Homo sapiens: one gene and its partner. The main gene of each other region encodes a partner of the protein of the gene in region 2 in a complex. Each region holds a gene or a part of one and is shown on either strand. Other genes may lie near its edges. The genes, in order: PHF10 and SMARCE1.

What was found.
Region 1: SMARCE1 (region 2) and PHF10 share a complex: the UniProt entries of both Homo sapiens proteins name them as parts of the neural progenitors-specific chromatin remodeling complex.

Annotation. Positions count from the first base shown.
Region 1 is NC_000006.12:169,717,795-169,721,621, reverse strand, and holds part of PHF10 (PHD finger protein 10), read left to right. Parts: intron 1-510; coding exon 511-617; intron 618-2,703; coding exon 2,704-2,834; intron 2,835-3,715; coding exon 3,716-3,799; intron 3,800-3,827. UniProt on the Homo sapiens protein: Involved in transcription activity regulation by chromatin remodeling. Belongs to the neural progenitors-specific chromatin remodeling complex (npBAF complex) and is required for the proliferation of neural progenitors.
Region 2 is NC_000017.11:40,637,791-40,641,617, forward strand, and holds part of SMARCE1 (SWI/SNF-related matrix-associated actin-dependent regulator of chromatin subfamily E member 1), read right to left. Parts: intron 1-3,827. UniProt on the Homo sapiens protein: Involved in transcriptional activation and repression of select genes by chromatin remodeling (alteration of DNA-nucleosome topology).

The DNA of each region.
Region 1 (3,827 bases), on a different chromosome or scaffold from region 2:
ATTGATGACCCTTATTAGGGTATATTTTTGCTAAATTTTAGCAGTGTAAGAGGAAGAGTGAATAGTTAGAATTGTTTTCGGTCTCATATGTCCCCTTTTCACAGGGACATAAATGCCTAAAGTAGTCAATTAAAATAGTCCTATGAACCGGCTTCAAGTTGAATTGAGAACTGTAAATGATCCATACATTTTTTTCCCCCTGAGCTTGGGTAGGAGAGTTTGCTTTAATCCTAGAGTGATGCAGCAGTTTGATATGTTTATGAAGAGCAGAAACCAAAGCAGATTTGCATTTACGGGTTCATTGAAAATGTTCTTATTTGGATTGGATTGAAGATCAGTTTTAAATTTTATTCCAGGTCTTGCTCATGCCAAACTCTTGGACCCTTTTAATTATAATATGAAGTTAATACTTGTATGACTAGTTGTCCTTAGACAGTCTTTCATTTATTGAGACTTACTGTTCTTTTATTCTTTCTCTAATTATTATTTTTGAATCTTTTAAATGTATAGGATGATAATGAAGATAATTCAAATGATGGGACCCAGCCATCCAAAAGGAGGCGAATGGGCTCAGGAGATAGTTCTAGGAGTTGTGAAACTTCAAGTCAAGATCTTGGGTACTGTCATTTTATCGGTTATTAATATTTTTTGTGATGTTCCTCTTTGCCTTAACATCCTCTTCCCTTTCCCCCAGCTCTGGCAAAGGCAATTATTAAAAATTGTAGAATATTTTCTTCCTGTTCTATAATGTGCCATCAAAGTTGGTCTTGCTACTGAGTGTAATTAAAAAGCAATTTTATGATAGTAAAATACATACATACATAAAATTAATCATTTTAACAATTTTTAAGTGTGAAATTCATTGGCATCAGTTACATTCACAGTGTTGTGCAGCCATTACCACCATCCATTTCCAAAACTTTCACTACCCCAAACTTTATAACCATTAAGCAATAACCTCCCTTTCTCCCTCTATTTAGCGCCTTGCAACCATCATTCTACTTTCTATTTCCGTGAATACGACTACTTAGTTACTTCATATAAGTGGAACCATAAAATATTTGTCCTTTTGTGGCTGGCTTATTTCTCTTAGAACTTTGAATATCTTCAAGGTTCATCTTTGTAGCATATGTCAGACTTTTTTTCTGTTTTTAAGGCTGAATAATACTCCATTTTATGTATATACTGATTTTGTTTATCCATTCAGATGTTGATGGGCATTTGGGTTTCCACCTTCTGGCCAAGGTGAATAATGCTGCAGTGAGCATTGGTGTTCAGAGTTTGTGTTTTCAGTTTTTTTGGATGTTTATCTAGGAGTGGAGTAGCTGGATTATATGGTAATCCTATGTTTAATTTTTTGAGAAGCTGCCAAACTGTTTTCCATAGGGGCTGCACACCAATTTACATTCCTACCAGCAATTCACAGTTTCCAGTTTCTTCATATTTCTCACCAATTTGTTATTTTTCATTTTTTAAAATAATAGTTACCCTAAAAGGTGTGGAGTGATATTTTATTGTGATTTTGATTTGCATTTTCATAATGCCTACTGATATTGAACATCTTTTCATCTGCTTGGCCATTTGTATAGCTTCTTTGGAGACATGTCTATTCAAGTTCTTTGTCCATTTTTTATTTGGGGTTTTTTTTGTTGTAGGAGCTTTTTAAATATATTTTATATATTAATACTTCATCAAAAATATGATTTACACATATTTTCTCCTGTTCTGTGGGTTGTCTTTTCACTGTCTTGATAGTGTCCCTGTACAAAATTTTTAATTTTGATGAAGCCCAAATTTTTCATCTATTTTTTCTTTTGTTGCTTGTGCTTTTGGTGTCATATGTAAGAATCTACCTTCAAATCCAAGGTTGTGAAAGATTTCTATGTTTTCTTCTAAGAGTTTTCTAGTTAGCTCTTATATTTAGGTTGTTGATCCATTTTGAGTTGTGATATGAGGTAAAGGTCCAATTTTATACTTTTGCATGTGGATACCCAGTTTCCCAGCACCATTTTTGAGAACACTGTTCTTTTTGAAGGTTACTTTTTAAATAGATGGATGCATAACATAGTGTCACTTTCCCATGTCCAATATAGAGGTTGAATTGGCCCATATCCTGAAATCTGTACTCTGTTACTCAGGATGGAGATCGACTGTGATACCCTGGCACCTTCAAACTAGGTCCATTCTTTGCTTCTGGGTTTGTGGAGTATCTGAGAACAAACAGTTACGGTTTATGATATGATGCACTGAGATAATAGGTTTTTAAGAGTTCTGTTTTCTCAGCTATTTATGACTCACTGAACAGTAGACAAGAGACAGAAGTTGATTATTCTTTGGGTGGATGAAATACTGGCTATGCATTTTAAGCCCAAGAGAAAGAAGTCAGAGCTGATACCATCATCACCTTGCTTTGCCCTCATAGGTCCTTTAAACTAAAAATGCCTTCGTTCTTAGCAATTGTGATTCTACGTTCTTCCCAGTGTATAAAAGATGTTATTTTCACATACCTTTTTGACTTGGTAGACCAGATAATTATTTCTATTCCTTGTACCTGTTTTGTAATTTTCTTTGATACACAGGAAGTCAAGTCATAGGAGGCAAATAATTTAAATACTTAAAATAGTTTTCAAAATATCCTCAATAAAAGTGATTAAAAATTAATGAAAGCTACATTTAATGCATAATATGTATTTCTGTACTTAGTTTTAGTTACTATCCAGCAGAAAACTTGATAGAGTACAAATGGCCACCTGATGAAACAGGAGAATACTATATGCTTCAAGAACAAGTCAGTGAATATTTGGGTGTGACCTCCTTTAAAAGGAAATATCCAGGTACTAGTTTATATAATAGATTAATTTATAATTGATAGTAATTCTTTATGATACACTGTCAACTTCTGAATTTTTCTGTAGATTATATTTTATATTCTTGTGCTTGCTGTTTTTTTTTAAGACTAAGGGTCTCATTCTGTAACCCAGGCTAGAGCGCACTGGTGCGATTATAGCTCACTGCAGCCTTGCACTCCTGGGCTAGCTGTCTCCCTGCCTCAGCCTTCTAAGTATCTGGGACTACAGGTGTGCACCACGACGCGTGGCAGATTTTTTTAATTTTTATTTTTTTAGAGATGTGAAGTCTTGCTATGTTGCCCAGCGTGGTCTCAAACTCATGGCTTCAAGCTATCCTGCTGCCTCAGCCTCCTGAATTGCTAGGATTACAGGTGTGAGCCACCACGCCTGGCTGTGTTTCATTTACTGCTATCATTCAGCATCACTCTTCATTATTGATATTTTCTATGGCTCATAAACTGATTTAAAAGCAAAATGGGAAAGGTGAATTTCCTGAGGAAAATTTTAGAAAAAATCATTTTATAGTCAAGTTTGGGATTTTTACCATTGTTTCTTGATCTAAGGAATAGAGTTAGCTATATGAGCCGTATCTGAATTTGAGAAAGGCTATTCCTCATGAACTAGTTTAGTATAGTTATTTATATGACCTTCTTGCTTTGGATTATTCTATTTCCTATTTTATTCTAACTTTTGTATCTTGCTGAGTTTTATTTCTTGAATTTATAAATTTTTTTGTAGCCCCTTTAATAATATTTGGAATATGTAATATGAATACTTTAAAAAGTCAAGGTTTTTAAGCTTTTAAAAGTTTTACAAGTGCATAAGGTTTTGCTGTTTTTAATAGTCTTTTGATCTTTTTTTTGGAGATTTAGAGCGACGAGATTTGTCTCACAAGGAGAAACTCTACCTGAGAGAGCTAAATGTCATTACTGAAACTCAGTGCACTCTAGGTAAGAATAGCTTTTTAATGTGAATTTT
Region 2 (3,827 bases):
CTTTGACAACCTGGCTGCAAGAACAAATAAAATATTACACAGTAACCCATACATTGAAAATATATGGTTATATATCAACCGTCTCAAGTTCAGGACATTACCTGGTACCCTCTTATTCTGCTCAATTACCATTACACATACAGTCAACACTTGATTATCTGCAGCAGGATCTGAACCCTTAACACTTACCATTCTCACACTGTCTACAGGGGCCTTAACCTATTAGCACTAGGAATGTACTCCCAACACCACCACAAAAACAACTTCCCAGGTTCAAAAACAAAAACAATTAGTGAAATAACAAACCACCTTACCTCCTTTGCCAGGCTAGAGATTTTATTTCTCTTAAGGTTCTGTCTGTTACCTAGTGGTTTTCTTGTAAAGGGGAATGAGAAGTGTGAATTAAAAGTCACACATTGTTTTGTCCTGAGTCCTAATCACAGTGTAAAAGCAAACAAGTTTATCAGGAACAGAGAAGTGGCAGATATCGGGCCTGATTACGTTATTTTTGAGGTCTTATATCAAGAAGCTCCATTCCATTAAAAATGTTCAGTTTTATGGGAAAGACAGAGGAAAAGGAAAGATGTGATGTACAGGAAAAGAGAGACAGAAGAAAAGGAGGCGGAGGGAAGACTGAAAAATATTTTTTAAAAAGGTAAAGCAAAAATAGGTGAAAGAAAAAATAAAAAAAGAAGGAAAGAGAAAGATAAAGTGATCAGTTTTTCCTGTGGCTTAAAGTCTAGGTGAGATTCCAGACAGCCTCTGGTAGACCACCCAGATAACACCCATCTAAAAGTATCTATTTCTGAACTTTTTAGTCTCCTGTTAATATACATGACTGCATTTGATTAAAGACCCAGAATAAGAAAAATCATTGCTATTTCAGACAATTTGCAAATTTTCAGGAGATCTCTGATATTGACTCTCCCTGCTAGGCTGGAGAAATGAAGTGTTGGCTTTATTTTAATTATCGAAAGACAGGATTGGCAAATCCTTATAGGAAAACTAAAGTAACATTTTGTTCGCTTCCCCTTCTGTTGTTGCTATGATAAAACCCCAGAGATACTCCTCCACTCTGGGCTGGGACCCCAATCATAACCTTATTTTTCATTTGAGGGCTCAGGGATTAGCATGTTTGTGTCCTTTTCCACTATGATCAAGAAATGTTTCCTCTTCCTACAAGGGTCTCTCTCCATCCCTATAACTCTACTTCTTCAAAGCATTTCGCCTTGGAAGCAGTATTTCCTCTCTTTCCATTCCTCCCATGCATTCTTGTCACACCTCATGCTAGTGCCCAGGTAGACAGACACTGTTTTTGGCCAGCAGTGGGTAAGAGAGTGAGATGGCCAGGGGCATGGAAACTGTCAAAAGTGGTAGGATGGGCAGCCAATACAGGGAAACCTGTATCAGGGTCTATAGTTCTTTCAAGGGGAAAGAGAATTCCTATAAGACTAACCTTATGGATTCAGAGGAACAGACACACACAAGTCTGCTTCTTCACACATAAAGTTACTAGAAAGTATTTCCAACTCATATCCAACACAAACCTTCAGAATTCCATGAAATGGATTACAAATAAAGTTGGAATTGTGCCCATAACTGAGGTGGTAAGACCACTGTCAAAATTTTTTGAAATTAAAGAGGTAAAGAATTCTAAAATGCCTATGCTTCCGAGCTTTAATATGAATTAAAACACTTTAAAAACACAGTAGTATTTGCTCTTTGATATTTTTCAAAGAATCACATTTTATATTAATGGAATTGCTATTTCCCCTCCTTTCTCCCAAAGAAAGGTACACAAATCATCTGTATATTGAGACCAGTCAACTTACAACAACAACAACAAAAACCCAAACTAAAAAAACACCCCAAAACAATAATAAAGTTAAATTCCAGATGGTTTTCAGGATAGTAAAGATTTATATCATTACACACCTCCAATTTATTTAACGTCTCAGACAGACATCTTTCTACAATGTCTTAAACATTTCTTTAAAAAAAGCTGAACATACTTTAGACCCTTTCTGGATAAGATTCAATTAGAAACAACCACTGTTTTGCTGTGCTGTAACCCTCTGTCAGATGTCAAAATCTGTTGTTGACTCTTTCAACGGCCTAGGGGCTATGCTTTTGGAGAATGTGTTTCCATTTTTGAACTGTTTCTTTCCTTGCTACTATCAGGAAACCCACCTCTAGCAGCAACTCTCTTTCCAATTTTCTGCTTTCAATTTCCAATGGGGAGGCGGGTAGAACTGTGCTTACAGAAGAGCAAGGTCCTAGGAAATCTCCTATGAATAAAGTTCATGGTTTTGTGAAATTTATCTTGGTTACTCAGTTTTTTGTTGTTGTTTCTTTTGCAATTCTCAGCTGTTTCTCTAGCAAGAACTTATTTAAGAGCTTTCTTCTGGGGCAGAATTTCTATTAATGTACAGAAATAGGCTGTTTTTAAAGACATTTTTGTCTCAATGTGTTTTCACACCTGTACTTAAGAGAATGTTAATCATCATCTGAATGAAGAACTGACTAGGAGTGAATTCCATCTTGTAGCTATCATAAGCACTCCAAAAGGTCTCGACATGCTATACAAAGTATTTACTGTCTGAGAACTACCCAAGTATACTGGAGTCATCAGGGAAACCCAATGTTCTCTACAGCCTACCACAAGCTACTGGACAGGGCTTCACAGATTCGTTCCTTGAAAACCACTAATGCAATCTGCGCACAACAATACCATACAGGAGCTTCCCCTCACCCCCAAAAGTAATGCATAACTAGGGTCATAGTAAAATCAAAATGCTTTTATTATGGTCAAAATCAGAGCCATTGAGTCCTAACAGCTTAAACTAGATATAGAAAGCAGGGCAAGTAGTGTAAAACCTCCACATTTTCTAGGCCCTTCTTCATATAGCAGTTTGATTATACTTCAATTTGGTGTTAAGAGGACAATAATACAAAGTAAATGTCCACAAAGGACCAAAACACCAAATTTTCCATGTCCAACAACTCTCTATAATTAATCTACTATGTAGCTAGTGTCCACGCCAAATGTTCAGTTCTTAACATTCGCCAAGAAGGAATGGGAAGAAACAGATGAGTGACTTCAGATAGGGAGTACACTTTCTCTTCCTAGTCTCCATCGAACAATCTCACTTTTTTAACTGAGAATCCCCCACAGCTACATCCAAGTTAAGAGCAAAATACTTACACAAAACCAAAAGACAAATTACTGTAATATTATAGTTATCATTTCTATTCCATTAACATAGATAATCAAGAGGTGACTGTATAGAGCTATTAAATGCAATCATTCTTGTTTACTGCCCGTGAAAAAATTGCTGCATTAACATTAAGATCCATGATTGATTCCGTTCATTGTTTAAACTGAAATGTTCTTTATCATTTGAAAACCTTGCCATCCATTACACTTGTGAAACAACATGTTTAGGCCAGGGAAAAACATGTATTGATGCACATAAAAATTGTATGCATTGTGAAATGCATACATACACACACTTTGTCAGAATTCTTTTTCAGATACCATGAAATATGCATGGCACATAAAACTTGATATGCTTATGAAGTACATATTATGCAGAAACAATGAAAAATTTAGACAAACAAAACCTATCAAGCTAAGCAATATGCTTATCAAGATAGACATTCATTTGATAGCTACAAGCTTTCAGTTCCAGCTTGACTACAGGGTGAGAGGGCTTTTTTGAAGTTACATTAATAGAAGGCACTTGTTATTTATGAATACAGCAAACAAAAACCAGGTATTAAAAACTTTACAGCCATTCTGGGTTGTATAAATTCTCACCAACACT